Linked DNA regions of Homo sapiens: all the other regions are reported to be linked to region 2. Evidence: microRNA targets listed by miRTarBase, many of them from high-throughput screens and not tested one by one. Region 2 holds a microRNA gene; each other region holds the end of a gene's coding sequence.

Region 1 (4,000 bases), not on the chromosome of region 2:
CATAGTCAAGGACTCAAGTCAGAGACTGTTAGAGAAAACCTGCTCTGTTGATTCTCTGAGTAGTAAAAAGGTTGCTGCACTGCACAGCTCCAGGGAACATTTAAATATAGACCCTGCGGTTGTGCAATTTTGTGGTTCTGAATAGTGGATCCATACTTCCAACTGGCTTTTGACATTATACCACCCATTATCACTCTCAGGGAGGCTAGATTTAAAGATGGACTTCTTTGCCCAATAGTGCACTCCCTGCACTTTGGGAGTGCATAAACATAGGTAGGTAAAGAATTGTTAACTCTTCATATCTGAATAATTTTTTTTCACGTTTTCATTTCTTAGGTCCAGTTTGTTATTGTCGCCATCCACATAAGCCAGTTCTTTTTCATGGAGGATTGCAAGTATCAGTTTCCAGTCTTTGCGTGCATCATTATGAGTTACAGTTTCATGTTTCTGCTGCTCTTTCTCCATTTTTGGTACCGTGCTTACACCAAAGGTCAGAGGTTGCCCAAAACTGTGAAAAATGGAACTTGCAAAAACAAAGATAATTGAAGCCCAACATAAGTCTATGATCGAAACTGATACATTGTCTTCCTTGACAATCAAGAGATATTTACCTATGCAGTGCATTTTGTATATTTTTCAAAACTAAGAGCTTGTATTTTTATGGTAAGTTATTGGGATGTCTGATATTTGAGAGCCCGAAGCTTCCAGATAACAGTCTTCTGATAATTAGAGCCTACAGCAGCCAGAATTTGTTTTTGTTTTTGTTTTTGTTTTTTTAGCTGCTTTTAAACCTAATCCAAAGGTTTTGTTTAAAACATTTTGTTGCAGTGAAAAAAAGATATGAAGCAATACAGTACTCTTCAAAGAAGTCCAATAAAGATGAAAAATATCATTAGGTATTTTGAGCACAGACGGAGATCCATGTGATAAAATAGATTCCTTCTGCTGGGTCTGGAAAGTCTGGAAACCACCTGTAGGCCCTGGCTTTGTCATTTATTGACTGTATTCAGAAGATACTATATTTGCTCTAGAGTTAACTCCCATTTTAGCAAGCTAGCACAGGTGAAAATTGAGTGAGTTTTTGATAACTTGTCATTTAAAATCATTAATGATAATTTTCAATGGATCTTTTCAGTAGCCATCACCAGTTTTGCTGATAAGACTTCCTCACAACCCATTTGTTGTACAAACTGTTTCAAAGTAGCAATCCTTTGGGTTAGTACACTTGATACCAAGTTTCATTCAGTTGATTATTTTCAAAACAAGGTGATTTGTTTTAATGGGTTAATGAATACTTTGCTATTACTGTTTTACAATTAACTTTGTATATCTCTGGAAAGAGGTGAATTTGTCAATGAAAAAAGTATTGTGTAGTTCAGTGGGAAAAACCTGTTGTCTGTTATAGTATCACATCACTTTCTTACATTGTCATGGTTTAAATTATTATCTTGGTGAAATATATAGGTTAGATACTTAAATGTTCATATTATTAGCACACTACAGGTACTACCCTTAAATCATAAATAATATTACCCATTGTACACAGTTTCCAGATATGAGTTAGAGTGGCTGTGAAGCAACTAGAGGCAAATTGTGGCACAGAGAATATCCAGGGGAAAATTGATTATGTAAGCAAGGGCTGTTCTACTTTGAGAGAGAGACAGACAGACTACATAATAGTAATATATTATATAATTAATGTTATAGATACACTGAACAATAAAACATTTTCTGGAATTATGAATTAATTAACAACCTGGATTTCTGTTTCCAGACCTATAAACCATGTAATGAAGGACTGAAATTCGTTTGGCATACACTTTGTTTCTTTAAAATTGCTAGTTTCTTTCTGTTATTTTTACATTTTCTTGTCAGAGAATCAAAACTATTAGTCAGTAGAGTTTTGTCCATGAAATAATATTTGGACATTTGTGAATTTTTCCCTATTTTTTTTCTTCTTTTATTTATACTCAATTTTGAAGCACTGTTTATGTTTGTAGGACTTTAAACAATTAGTACTTAAAGCCCCAGTTAATTTTGAACACACAGAGATACTTATTGTACTCTGTGTACAGTAAGTATTTTTATGTTTACACTTACCAGATTCATAAGGTTATTTGCCTTTAAGTGATCTTTTGTGATTTTACTTGATTACAGCATGAGAAGGTAAAGGTTGATAAATGGGAGTAATTACATATATATATATAATTTATTATTTTTTTTTCTGAAGCAGAGTTTTACTCTTGTTGCCCAGGCTAGAGTGCAATGGCACAATCTCGGTTCACTGCAACCTCTGCCTCCCAGGTTCAAGTGATTCTCCTGTCTCAGCCTCCCAAGTAGCTGGGATTACAGGTGCCCGCCACCATGCTCAGCTAATTTTTGTATTTTTAGTAGAGACAGGGTTGGCCAGGCTGGTCTCGAGCTCCTGACCTCAGGTGATCCTCCCACCTCGGCCTCCCAAAGTTCTGGGATTACAGGGGTGAGCCACTGTGCCCGGCCATAATTTTATATTTTTAGAAAATAAAGAATGAAGGACAAAAGAGCACAGCTAAATGAAACTGCTGCTCTAATTTATTCCACTGGAAAGGTCTCAGGACTCCTTAACTGTTTTCCAGGTTTGGCTCTTCATATCTAACCTGTGCTAAAATGAGAAGGTATGCTAGGTGCTGTTAGAAATCACACCATTTCCAAAGAACCCAAGTAGTATAGAGACCAAAATGAGGCAAAAATAAAAGAGATGAAACAGGAGAGTTTATTTCTTGCATACTTTCCGACCTTCATCATACAACCTCTCCTAACCTCCCTGTAGTCTTTAAAATGTTTAACTTGCCTATAAGCTAACATGTAATAAAACACATACTCAATTATATGAATAGAAGTGGAGAGCCAGAATGCTACAAAAGAAATCACAGCTGCTAGAAGTATCCTCCATAGAAACATCAACATGATTGTGGATCAAAATGATTTTCACTGGATATGGAATTTGTATGGGCCATATTTATTAAAAGAGTTCTGTGTGGTCACATAGAGTTCCTTTGGGATTTCATCCCACTTTTCAGGACTTAATTTGTTTGGGTTTGCTTACCTAACAAGCAACAACAACAACAAAATAAATAGTTCCAAAATCTAGTTTATTACATAAATCTCTATGAATCCTTGAGGGCCTATATCTATATTATAAATAAATACAAATATAGATTTTTAAATATCTATGGGACTTTGCCATTTACAGCCTTAAGTATAAAATTACGAGATTATATTCTTTCCATTACCCTTTATTTCTGCTAACTTTTTAAAGACTGGAACATTCTGTGGATGTTGTCAAAGTTTGAGTTTGTTTTTCCCTGTGTATTATAATAAATTTGTGGTATTGCATGTATACGTGTGTATATTTTTCATTTTGGAATCTAGCTGCATGTATTTGCATGGGTTGGTGACTTTTAATTTGAATACTCACCAATCAAAGTTATTTTACATATTTCTTGTATACGTGCTGTGTTCATCTTTGGGATACAAAGATACTTAGAACATAATTGGGATCTCCTGGAGCTTACCAACTGGCAGATGAAATTATGTGACAGGGCAGTAGATGATAGGTGCCAGATGAGTGACAGTTCTGCCACTTAGCAGACAGGGAAGACTCTATGAAGGAATTTGAATTTGAGTTATGTGTTTAGGTTGTACAGAATTTCAAAATTGGTGGTATGTTAGTAGGCAAGGTTTTTTAAGTGGAAAGAATTAACAAAAAAGAATATTTTGCCATCCCCACTGTCTCTAATAAATGGGACTAGCTAATGATCACTGGTTGCTAAAACAATTAGATGAAAGGTTGATGGGGATGGCTTGTGCTGATATGACTGAACCCAGTGATCAATCTTAATATCATTCAAAGTGGGACAACCAGATGTTTTGTCTCATAATACACTATAATACTCTGAGGTATTCGTGGCAAAAAAATTTTTGAACTTGAATCTAATAAATCCTCTGTATCTAAACTACT
Region 2 (4,000 bases):
TGGCCCAGCTTCTGGGCTGAGGTCAGAGCAACCTGCTGGAGGTGAGGAGGATGGAGAAAGGGAAAGTTGCTGAGCAGAAGCATTCTTGGTGAGCTCTTCCCCAGCCTAGGGCTGTGGCTTGGACTGCTTCAGGAGCACCAGGAGCCCTGTGACAGCAGGAGGTCCTGCAGAATTCAGAGTGCCCTGCAGAGTGCCACGGGGAAGGGAGATGGGGAGCTGGAGCAAGAGAGGTGCGGGTGTGAGGAGCCCAGAGCCAAAGAGTTCATGAAAGCAGGGCTCTCACACTCGGACGTGCATGAGATAGCCTGGGATCTGGTTTTGCTCTTTTTTACTCTCTGGGATGCTCAGAACAGATTGTAATTTGGTAGGCCTGGGGTAGGATCTGGGGCCTGCATTTTTAATAAATTCCCTTGTTGGTTCTGATGCCTGCCAGAATTTGAGAACTGCTAGATCAGGACTTTAGAGAACTCACCTTTCCCCTCCGAGATAGAGGGCTTCAGGGGCTCAGCCTGGTGTGAATCGAGTGCCCCACAGTCACTCGCCCAGGGCCGATCCCATTTGCCCAAAACCCCTTTCCCAGTGTCTTTTTTTTTTCTTCTTTTTTGAGACGGAGTCTTGCACTGTCGCCCAGGCTGGAGTGCAGTGGCATGATCTTGGCTCACCGCAACCCGTGCCTCCCAGGTTCAAGCGATTCTCCTGCCTCAGCCTCCCAAGTAGCTGGGATTACAGGCGCCCACCACCGCACCCAGCTAATTTTTTGTATTTTTAGTAGAGATAGAGTTTCACCATATTGGCCAGTCTGGTCTTGAACTCCTAACCTCGTGATCCACCCGCCTCGGCCTCCCAAAGTGCTGGGATTACAGGCATGAGCCACCACGCCTGGCCTCCCAGTGTCTTTTATGACTTCACTTCCTCGCCCTCTTCTCACCTCTGCCGACTGAACATGCAGGTCTGGGCCCACTATGAGGAGCAGCCCGTGGAGGAGGTGATGCCAGTGCTGGAGGAGAAGGAGCGATCTGCTAGCTACAAGCCCGTGTTTGTGACTGAGATCACTGATGACCTGCACTTCTACGTGCAGGATGTGGAGACCGGTGAGTGCTCAGGCCGCTGGCTCGTGGTTCCTGGCTTGGTCCAGCTGGCGCTGCCTGGGGGTAGGGGGCCTCTGCCCAGTGGGTGGGAGGAACAATGCCTAGGCAGTCCAGGAGCCTCCCCTGAAGAGCTCACGTTGCCGCCCCTGTCTCCCTGCCTTGTCCCACTGCTCCTCTGGGCTTGGAGTTACTTCAGGAGCCTTCACATGAGCCCTGGCTTGGGCTCAGGCATGGAGGTGCTGCCGGACAGGTCCTCTGGACGCAGGTGAGATAACCAGGTTTATCTGGGTGGAGCTCTGAGTCTCTTAGGTGATTGTTTGTTCCTACATACCCCTGGCTATGCTGGGCAGGATGATTTGTAGCCCCCAGAATCTGTCAGGCACCAGCCAGGCATTGCTCAGCCCGTTTCCCTCTGGGGGAGCAAGGAGTGGTGCTGGGTTTGTCTCTGCTGGGGTTTCTCCTTCTCTAGAGGTTAACATAGCCCTGAGTGATAGCCAGTTTCCATGGAAACAGGCAGCGCTCTAGGGGAAGACATCCCCGGGCAGTCTCTGAAGGACCTTCTCCTCCTTCCGTCCTGAGTGGTGTGCACTGTGGCCAGGGTCCCCTGGGCAGAGACCTGGGGTTTCTGGAGGCCAAAGGGCAGGAGAGAGCTCTGGCAGCCGCTAGCCCGACTACACCTCCAACCGCTTACGCTTTCCACCCTGACCTCCCTTTTCTCATGGCCACCCTGTGCAGGGAAACAGTTGAGTTTGGAGCGGAAGGAAAAGCTCTTAGAGCTGCTTCTGGATCCCAGGAAACAAATCATGGTAGGCACAGGTGGACAGAGGGGGCTAGAAGTGTCAGCAGCACTTGGGCAGTCCCCCAGATGGCAGGACACAGCTCTGCCCAGCCTCCTCAGCCCACCCCAGGTCCGCTCCAGCCCCGTCTCAGCCACTTCCCTCTAATGCTGTTTCCCAGGCAGCTGCCTTTGTGGCAGTGTCATTTCACCAGGAAAAACTTGACCATTCCTGGCCCTGGGCTGGCTGTGCTTGAAAAAGGAAAAACGCAAGGGGGAGGGGTAGAGATGGAGCCCACGAGCCTGCGGGATTAGGTTCTCTTGAGGTCAGCCACAGTCCTGCTGAAAGCTGCTCCAGCAGTTGCCTGAATGAACCGGGGCGGTGGCCAGCCTTTAGGGCTGGGTCATGTGACAGGGAAGGAGTCTTGTAGTGGTGGTCTCAGTGGGAACAAGAGCCGTTCCTGGGCAGAGGAACCAGCTGGAATCCACCACCCCAAAATCCCCGCCAGCCCACCAGAGAACTTGAGCAAAAGGATGCGATCACTCCCAGGCAGGCTCTACTCAGCCTCTGGGTCCTGCTGGGGAGGACCCGCCTTGACTCAGAACAAGCCCCTGAAGTCTTAGAGAGCAGAAATCTGAGGCAGAAAACAAGAGAAAAGAGAAAACCATGTGTCCTTAGAATGCTGGAAGAGAAGGGAGTGAGGCCCTTCCTGGCAGGCCACCTGGGGATTTGTGGTGGGCTCCAGAGAGGAAGGCCCCTGCCCTCTGGTGGCTCCATGGTATCCATGGAGATGAACCTCAGGATCCACAGCCCCCTCTCTGCTGAAACCTTTCATCCCCTCTTGGGTGGCATCCTCTCACCCTGTCTCCCTTCTTTCAATTAGAGTCTGTCTTCAAGAGGGATCTGACGAAAACATTGCCATTAGCTGCAAATGACCAGTGAGGCTCTGTAAGGACCTCCCAGAGGGCTTTGCCTGTTGGCAGGAGACAAAGTCCTGCTTCTGTTGCCTTGGAGCAAAAAAAATGAAAGTAGACCAAGTTAGGGAGGAAGCTGTCTGTCAAGGCTTCTTAATCCCTGGAATTTCACTGTCTATGGCAAGGAGCACTGTCTAAAGAGAATTATAGAGGGCTGACCACTGGGTAGGGAGAGGGGCGGCTGCTACCTTCAGGCCTCTGTCGTGTGGATGCAGGACCAGTGGCCTCTGCAGCAGCTTAAGAGTGGACATACATCCCTGCATGCTTATGCAGTTTATTTTCAATGCAGCTGAATTATTAAGCACCCTGCATGCATTGGGGATTCTACCAGGCTTTGTGCAAGTAAACAGAAAGAAGTGAGCTATGCTCTATGCCCTGAAGGAGCTCACAGTATAGTAGCAGGGAACTTATAAGGCTGACTGTGGCAAGTGTAACAACAGACATATGTTGCGCCCTCCTTACAGCACTGCCTTGGGCCTGAAGATAAAGAGAGGAGCCCCACACTTAGACCACAGATCCACAGTCACCCTCCTTGCTTCTGAGACGCAAGGGGCAAAAAAGGTCTGAGACTGAGCTAGAATCAGGGCCAGAAGGGACTGATGCCTCCCAGAGTCAGGGTGGGAGAATTCTACAAGGAGCCAGGGAGAGAAACTGAGTAGGCCCTGGGTGTTGCTAAAACAGGCAAAAGCAGCAAATAAGCAGCAGGACCACTGACCCAAGGTCAGAGTGCTTAGGGAAAGACAAGGCAGGGAATCCCTCCTCCTGTGGCGCAGGGGCCCTGAGTAGCAGGGTGGGACAGTACAGCCCCAGCCCAGCAGCACTGGAAGTCCTGTTCAGCATGTATCTTGCAGGGTGACAAGGGTCAGAGGGGCCAAGTTTGAATAATACTGAGGCTCTAGGCCCTGATCCAAGAATTCCTCCCCCACCTTCCATGGCTTCAATTCTGGGGCCTTTTCCACGGTGGTGTGGGGCCCATCCTTCATCCCTACTTTTGCCCCCTGAAAGACAGTAGACAGTGGCTTCTGTCAGTTACCACCTCTGTGGCCCAGGCCAGGAGCTGGCCTTGCAGGAATGGGGTACGGGCTGGCCAGCTCTCACCCTGGAGGAGGCTGTTTGGATTGTCCTTGCTCCCTGTCTACTTTCTTTCTCCACCTCCTTAATC
Region 3 (4,000 bases), not on the chromosome of region 2:
ATTCCTGCAAGAGCAAACTTTGGTCTAACCAAGTCTTGATATTAAAAAAAAAATCCTTGGCATAAATAAAGCTTATTTAAACAGATTATACCCCTATGTAACATTTGCCCACATGTAAAAACCAAAGAATTCAATTTTCTCAATCATCAATAGACAGTTTCACTCTAGAAAATAACTGGTCTCTAACGTCTTAGATATATATGCTATAACTGGAGTCATTATTTACAACTTACAAACATGTCTTAAATGTTCTTCTATGATGTTAAAATGATACAACAGATTCTTTGTCTAGTTTGGTGAACTTGATCATTTTGTGGGGATAGTTTGATGCTCGTTATAAACAATTATGAGAAAGCATTATTTCTGAAAAGGCAATTACAAGTGCTGGTGGCACTGTGTTCAGTGAATGTTGGATATTCATGCTGATGTATGTAAAGTTTGCATGCAGAAGATAATAGCATAAAAGGACATTTAGATCATAGACTAAAGTGCATTAGAGTACACACATGCAAGCACTACTTCATTTATAGGAAAAAAGTTCAAATCAGCCATTTTTCCTACTGGCTCCAACAACTAAAAAATCAGGTTTTAATTTCAAAAGGTGTCAGTATTAATTGGGTAAGACTAGAGAATGACAAGCGTTTCCTTCCTCATTCAGATACACTTTAATTGTTAAGAATCCTGATTTAGGCCGGGCGTGCTGGCTCACGCCTGTAATCCCAGCACTTTGGGAGGCTGAGGCGGGCAGATCACGAGGTCAGGAGTTCGAGACCAGCCTGGCCAACATAGCGAAACCCTGTCTCTACTAAAAATACAAAAATTAGCCAGGCATGGTGGCACATGCCTGTAGTCCCGGCTACTCAGGAGGCTGAGGCAGGAGAATCGCTTGAACCCGGGAGGCAGAGGTTGTGGTGAGCGAGATCACGCCACTGCACTCCAGCTTGGACAACAGAGCGAGAGTCCATCTCAAAAAAACCAGAATCCTGATTTAGGAACAGCCATGTTGGGAGAACAGAGAACTCAATGCACATCATCCAGTCTTGAAGCAACTGCAAATGTGCCATCAGGGGAATCTTGAAAAAGTCTCAATTAAGTACCATGAAACAAGTGGTTATTCATCTATTTTTAAATTTTTTAAAAGAAAGTAACCAATTTAGCCTAGAAATTGGTATCAAGGACAATAATTAATGAAAGAACAAGAGAAAATAGTAACATAAAAAGGATAATTTTGAGGTATGTCATGGCATTTAAAAATACAGTAAAATTGGCTGGGCGCAGTGGCTCACGCCTGTAATCCCAGCACTTTGGGAGGCCGAGGGGGGCGGATCACGAGATCAGGAGATTGAGACCATCCTGGCTAACACGGTGAAACCCCATCTCTATTAAAAATACAAAAAATTAGCTGGGAGTGGTGGTGGGCGCCTGTAAGTCCCAGCTACTCGGGAGGCTGAGGCAGGAGAATGGCGAGAACCCGGGAGGTGGAGCTTGCAGTGAGCTGAGATTGCACCACTGCACTCCAGCCTGGGCGACAGAGCGAGACTCCGTCTCGAAAAAAAAACAAAAACAAAAAAGAAAACAGTAAAATAGATGGAGCCTCTCCATATACAGTGAAATTCTATCAAGCTTCACTGTGATAACTTGCAGAAGAGACCTTTATGAAGCTCAGTTCTTTACTTCGGATATTTAGATTTTACCTTTAGAACTGAAACAATGCTTCTCTAATTTAGCTGTAATTTTGGAATGTTTCATAATTTATGCAGGGGAGAAGTTTTTTTTTTTTTTTTTTTTGAGACGGAGTTTCGCTCTTGTTGCCCAGGCTGGAGTGCAATGGCGCAACCTCAGCCCACCGCAGCCTCTGCCTCCTGGGTTCAAGCTATCCTCCTGCCTCAGCCTTCTGAGTAGCTGGGATTACAGGCATGCACCACCACGCCCGGCTAATTTTGTATTTTTAGTAGAGACGGGGTTTCTCCATGTTGGTCAGGCTGGTCTCAAACTCCCGACCTCGGTGATCCACCTGCCTCAGCCTCCCAAAGTGCTGGGATTACAGGCGTGAGCCACTGGGCCCAGCCCAAAGGGGAGAAGTTTAAACTTTGTATACTAGGAGAAAAGTTTGTTTTGAAAATATTATATAAACAAGAGAAGCAAAAATGTTCAACATATTTAAGTGAATAATTTGTTCAAATAGTTTTATACTTTAAATTTACATATAAATAACGTGACATAAAAACATACCAATAGGTACTGTAGGGACATTACTTAGCATTATTTGAAAATCTCTAGATCAAGATATTGTATGTTGTTGAAAATGATTCAATTCCTCCTTTCATACTTTCTAATTCTGATTGGCTTATTTTTATAATGACTGCCAACTGGTGAGGTTTGACTTCTATTCTTTGCCATTTCAGGAGACATACAGGGAGAGAAGGCTGAAAGAGGATTGTTTAAAATCAGATCCTGTCCAATCATCAGTTTTCTCTCTCAGACTTTCTGACCTTAATTTCCTCATTTGTAAATCGGAGATAGTATCCACCTCACTGAGAAAATACATGAGAGAGTACTTTATAAATAATATAGCACTACATAAACGTTAGAAATCACTCACATATGGTAAGAACCTCCTAGTTTGTTTTCCTTTTTTTTTTGAGACGGAGTTTCGCTCTTGTTGCCCAGGCTGGAGTGCAATGGTGTGATCTCGGCTCACTGCAACTTCTGCCTTCCAGGTTCAATCGATTCTCCTGCCTCAGCCTCCCGAGTAGCTGGGATTATAGGCACCCGCCACCATGCCCGGCTAATTTTGTATTTTTTAGTAGAGACGAGGTTTCACCATGTTGGCCAGGCTGGTTTCAAACTCCTGACCTTGTGATCCGCCTGCCTCGGCCTCCCAAAGTATTGGGATTATAGGCATGAGCCACAGCGCCCAGCCTGCTTTTCTTTAGAGAGATGGACAACCATATTGACAGATTGTCTTCACAAACTACCTTGACTTTTAGGCAACATTAGTTTCCTGCTTTAAGAAAATATCTGTATATAATCTTTGGCCAGCCTCTACTTTTTTTTTTTTTTAACAATACTGAGAGTAATTTTTAAGCTAATGATAAAAATTTCAAATATGAATGATTTCAAACACTTTAGTCTTCTTCCATAATCCTTAAACGTTCAGGATATCAGAGTAATGACAGGTTGTTTCAGATCTCAAATTAATAGAAAGACTAATTTGTTTAGTAAGGTGGGTTGCCAGATCCTTAAATGTGCTCTTAACTGGTTCCCTGTGAAATTAAACATTGGTAGTTATGTGTTTTTGAAACACCTTGAAATTGTCTTACATAAAGTTTGGTTGTGGTGAATTTATTTAAAGTATTTTCTTTGAAAAAAGTTTGCTAAGTAGATCCTCCAATATTAAAAGAAAAAGGTATCTCTGGAATAAAGTAAGAGGATTGTAATGAAAGTAAGAGGATAATTGTTCATCCATCAAGCCAACTCAAGCTAGTTCTTTCTTTCCAGTGCAGCAACACATTTTAGGGCAACAAAGTTCAGAATGGATACAATGGCCTGTTCAGAAAGCATGCAAGTTATATCAGATCATTTCTTTAAAGTCAGTGTGATAAATTTGTTAACTAGACTCCGACCATAGAAAGAGAGAGATACAGGAAGTCAATGTAAATTGCAGACATGCCAGCTCTGTTGGTTCACATTACAGCTACCTAATGTTGGGCTTAATTTCTTTTTCTTCTTCTTCTTCACTATCATCAACCTGTTGGATGACCAGATCAGCAGACCCATCTTCTACAATCTCCACATAGGATCTATTCTCATCTTCACTCAAGTGCCATCTGGAATCCTTATCTCCATCTGATGGGGACATAAGATGTTGTTCAGCTTCCAAGTCAATGGGGAGGCTGTCTATGCCAAATTCTGCAAGACACTCATTACACAGTCTGTAGCGCCTGGTTCCCTCCTGTACCACTTGCCCTGTTAGATCTGTCACATGACGTTTACATTT
Region 4 (4,000 bases), not on the chromosome of region 2:
TCCTTTCCCTATCCTCCCCTTCATTTCTGCATCTCTCTAGGAAATATATAAAGCCCCTTTCCTACATTACTGTATAGGTTTTCGGGAATATCTACAGAAGCCTGTTCAAAGATTTTATTGAAAAGAGGAAGAAATAGGGTATTCAGATAAGTTTTTGCAAACCCAGACTCAGGTTTCTTAAATGATTAAAGGCTATAAGCAATGTGACTTTTAAGCAGCGTTTGTTCTCCCTTGTTTCCTACCAGTTATATGAAGCCTACAGTAAAGTCTGTCGCAAACAGCAGGTGGCGGCTGTGGACCAGTCAGAGTGTTTGTCACTTTCAGGGCTCTTGGAAGCCAGGGGCATTTTAGGATTAAAGAGAAACAAGGAAACCCGTTTGACAAAGGTACAACTGCTTTTTTGTGACAGTGTTTTTAATTGTCCTATTTTGTAGAGTGATGCTAAAGTAAAGGTTTATTGTTAAACAAGATGACCACAGTTAGTTAAACAAGTCGTTTTTTGTTAGGTAAGGTTTAAGGTGTGTAAAGATGGGAGTGTGATATGAATATTTTTTCAAGCCATTGGAAAAAAAAGTGTTTAACTTGCTTGCCTTTTGTGAGAAAAAGTTTAATATGGTAGAAGTTTGTATACTGACAACTTTGCTTTTGTGAGTTCCCCAGTGTGAAAAATCCTTTTCTCTTCTTTCCAGGTGTTTTTCAAGATTGAAGAGAAAGAAATAGAACATGCTCTGAAAGATAAAGCTTTAATTGGAAATATCTTAGCTACTGGATTGCCTTAAATTCTTCTCTTACACCCCACCCGAAAGTATTCAGCTGGCATTTAGAGAGCTACAGTCTTCATTTTAGTGCTTTACACATTCGGGCCTGAAAACAAATATGACCTTTTTTACTTGAAGCCAATGAATTTTAATCTATAGATTCTTTAATATTAGCACAGAATAATATCTTTGGGTCTTACTATTTTTACCCATAAAAGTGACCAGGTAGACCCTTTTTAATTACATTCACTACTTCTACCACTTGTGTATCTCTAGCCAATGTGCTTGCAAGTGTACAGATCTGTGTAGAGGAATGTGTGTATATTTACCTCTTCGTTTGCTCAAACATGAGTGGGTATTTTTTTGTTTGTTTTTTTTGTTGTTGTTGTTTTTGAGGCGCGTCTCACCCTGTTGCCCAGGCTGGAGTGCAATGGCGCGTTCTCTGCTCACTACAGCACCCGCTTCCCAGGTTGAAGTGATTCTCTTGCCTCAGCCTCCCGAGTAGCTGGGATTACAGGTGCCCACCACCGCGCCCAGCTAATTTTTTAATTTTTAGTAGAGACAGGGTTTTACCATGTTGGCCAGGCTGGTCTTGAACTCCTGACCCTCAAGTGATCTGCCCACCTTGGCCTCCCTAAGTGCTGGGATTATAGGCGTGAGCCACCATGCTCAGCCATTAAGGTATTTTGTTAAGAACTTTAAGTTTAGGGTAAGAAGAATGAAAATGATCCAGAAAAATGCAAGCAAGTCCACATGGAGATTTGGAGGACACTGGTTAAAGAATTTATTTCTTTGTATAGTATACTATGTTCATGGTGCAGATACTACAACATTGTGGCATTTTAGACTCGTTGAGTTTCTTGGGCACTCCCAAGGGCGTTGGGGTCATAAGGAGACTATAACTCTACAGATTGTGAATATATTTATTTTCAAGTTGCATTCTTTGTCTTTTTAAGCAATCAGATTTCAAGAGAGCTCAAGCTTTCAGAAGTCAATGTGAAAATTCCTTCCTAGGCTGTCCCACAGTCTTTGCTGCCCTTAGATGAAGCCACTTGTTTCAAGATGACTACTTTGGGGTTGGGTTTTCATCTAAACACATTTTTCCAGTCTTATTAGATAAATTAGTCCATATGGTTGGTTAATCAAGAGCCTTCTGGGTTTGGTTTGGTGGCATTAAATGGCAATTTGTGACTGAGACACCAGAGGGCACCCTTATAACATTGACTACTTTGAAAGGGGATGCTTGAGGCTGAGGTAGTTTTGAGGGAAAGGGGGAAGTTCTAGTTTGATTTGTTTGGGAGATTGCTGTCCTTTCATAACTGAAGCAAATGCTTGAAATGTAAACCATGTGTGATACGAATGATCTGAGAGCCAGTGACCAAGTCTGCTTTTCCCTGAGCTCTCCTGCTGCCGCCTCTACCTTTCTGACATGGCCTTCCATTTGGAACTTGATATGTGTACAAGTGATCTGTTGGCCACTGTTTCATTCATCCTGACCACTGTATCCGTGTAATGTGATCTGAGCTACAACAGGTGGTATGGGATAGAGGCAAGGAAAGCAGAGAGAGCCCTCTGAAATGAACACTACCCACTGGTGTGTGTAGCACATGATAGTCTGTAGGCATGAGTCTGAATGTTGTTCTCACACTCCTTTACTAGAGTATTCGTTCCCTCTGAAGGTAGTTTGAACATGGAAACACAGTTCTATACCTAGAAGGTTGGAAAGTGTCTGGGACTATAAGGGTTAACATGCATAATTGCAAAGATTGTCCGAAGGCTGATGGAAAGCAGAGACTGAATGGGATTGAGAACAGATGCGAAGCTTGATTTAAATTACATTTTATTGGATGCTGCAGCCTTAAGAGACGTGACTGCTTTACAGTTTGTTTCCACACTGTGGGCAGCTGCTGTCTGTTCTGTGTCCACAGTAGGATCCTGCCCAATAAGGAGCAGCCTCCCCACCTCATTGTGTTTGAGGCTTGGCGCCTTCCTCTTAACTGTAGGGCTTGAGTCAGGAACATGGCTTGACTCGCAGTGGGGCTGCTATGTATCCTCCCTGGCTTCCAGCCAAAATCACATTGGTAGATTCAAAGGGGCCAAATTTCTTTCCCCTCTATCTTTCCCTTTCCCCTGGTTTTGGAAATAGAGTTTTCTGTCTACTGATTTGTTAGTTTCCTTTTCTTCTCCCCTCACTGTCAATTTCTAGGTCATTGCTGCTCTTAAGACTTTAGCAGTTGGAACAGGGTTGGTTCTGTCAATGATGCATGAAGCAGACTTAGTGTCCCTGCTTGGCTTCTGCTGCCCTTGTGGGAGCAAAAGCTGATATATGTTTGTCAGTAAAGTCTTAAGTGTAATTCAGACTGCTGAGGAAGAAAGCCCTTTCCTTGCTGGCTTTTCTCCCTGAAGCTGAGAGCTTCAGGAAGGTGGTAGGAGTTTTAGTGGGATGGGATGGGATGGGCTTGTGGTTAGCAGTTTTTGCCAGGATCATAGGCTGCTTCACTTAGAGTAGTGGCAAAGATGCTGACCTACATTCTTCCTTTTGAAGGTGATGGAGTGTGTGTCTATATCCTGGTTTATCTCTCTCCCCCACCCCAAGGAAGCTGATTAAGCTTCCATAGAGTGTTGGGTGTTGCCATGGAAAGAGCATAGACAAAATAAATTGTGTGTTTCAACCCCAGAGCTGCCACAGATGTTTCTGGCTCAATGGAGACTTGCCTGTGGCTAGCTAACTCTGCAAGAATGTGTGAGGTCCAGGCTGGGGGTGGTGGCTCACGCCTGTAATCCAGCACTTTGGGAGGCCGAGGCGGGCGGATCACCTGAGGTCAGGAGTTTGAGACCAGTCTGGCCAACATGGCGAAACCCTGTCTCTACTAAAATAAATTAGCCAGGCATTGTGGTGTGTTCCTGTAATTCCAGCTACTGGGAGGCTGAGGCAGGAGAATCGCTTCAACCTGGGAGGCAGAGGTTGCAGTGAGCCGAGATCGTGCCATTGCACTCCAGCTTGGGCAGCAGAATGAGACTGTCTCAAAAAGGAAAAAAAAAAATGCTGGGTGTGATGGCTCATGCCTGTAATCCCAGCACTTTGTGGGGCCAAGGCGGGCTGATCACTTAAGGGTCAGGAGTGCAAGACCAGTCTGGCCAACATGGCGAAACCCTGTCTCTACTAAAAGTACAAAAATTCACTGGGTGCCATGGTACACACCTATAATCACAGCTACTTGGGAGGCTGAGACAGGAGAATT

The links. Region 2 holds the annotated microRNA hsa-miR-593-3p (UGUCUCUGCUGGGGUUUCU, at 1,529-1,547, shown strand). A microRNA usually pairs through its seed, bases 2 to 8, with sites in the 3' UTR of a target mRNA and lowers its output. Matches are read on the target gene's strand: a 7mer-m8 pairs with bases 2 to 8, a 7mer-A1 pairs with bases 2 to 7 and ends in A, and an 8mer does both.
Region 1: miRTarBase lists ELOVL7 as a target of hsa-miR-593-3p. Seed matches in the 3' UTR shown: 7mer-A1 at 1,657-1,663 and 7mer-A1 at 2,393-2,399.
Region 3: miRTarBase lists ZBTB8A as a target of hsa-miR-593-3p. Seed matches in the 3' UTR shown: 7mer-A1 at 798-804.
Region 4: miRTarBase lists CDC6 as a target of hsa-miR-593-3p. Seed matches in the 3' UTR shown: 7mer-A1 at 1,316-1,322 and 7mer-m8 at 2,547-2,553.

Annotation. Positions count from the first base shown.
Region 1 is chr5:60,751,170-60,755,169 of GRCh38, reverse strand. ELOVL7 (ELOVL fatty acid elongase 7) reads left to right here. Exons shown (of 9, transcript NM_024930.3): 9 at 337-3,379. The coding sequence ends at 546. Among named protein-coding and RNA genes, the nearest start is that of DEPDC1B, 53 kb to the right of the region's middle.
Region 2 is chr7:128,080,411-128,084,410 of GRCh38, forward strand. It overlaps MIR593 (microRNA 593), which reads left to right and starts at 1,451; the gene lies at 1,451-1,550. SND1 (staphylococcal nuclease and tudor domain containing 1) reads left to right here. Exons shown (of 24, transcript NM_014390.4): 18 at 950-1,091.
Region 3 is chr1:32,600,117-32,604,116 of GRCh38, reverse strand. It overlaps ZBTB8A (zinc finger and BTB domain containing 8A), which reads right to left. Exons shown (of 5, transcript NM_001040441.3): 5 at 1-4,000. The coding sequence ends at 3,698. Among named protein-coding and RNA genes, the nearest start is that of ZBTB8OS, 48 kb to the left of the region's middle.
Region 4 is chr17:40,301,223-40,305,222 of GRCh38, forward strand. CDC6 (cell division cycle 6) reads left to right here. Exons shown (of 12, transcript NM_001254.4): 11 at 246-386; 12 at 690-3,435. The coding sequence ends at 779. Among named protein-coding and RNA genes, the nearest start is that of RARA, 6.0 kb to the right of the region's middle.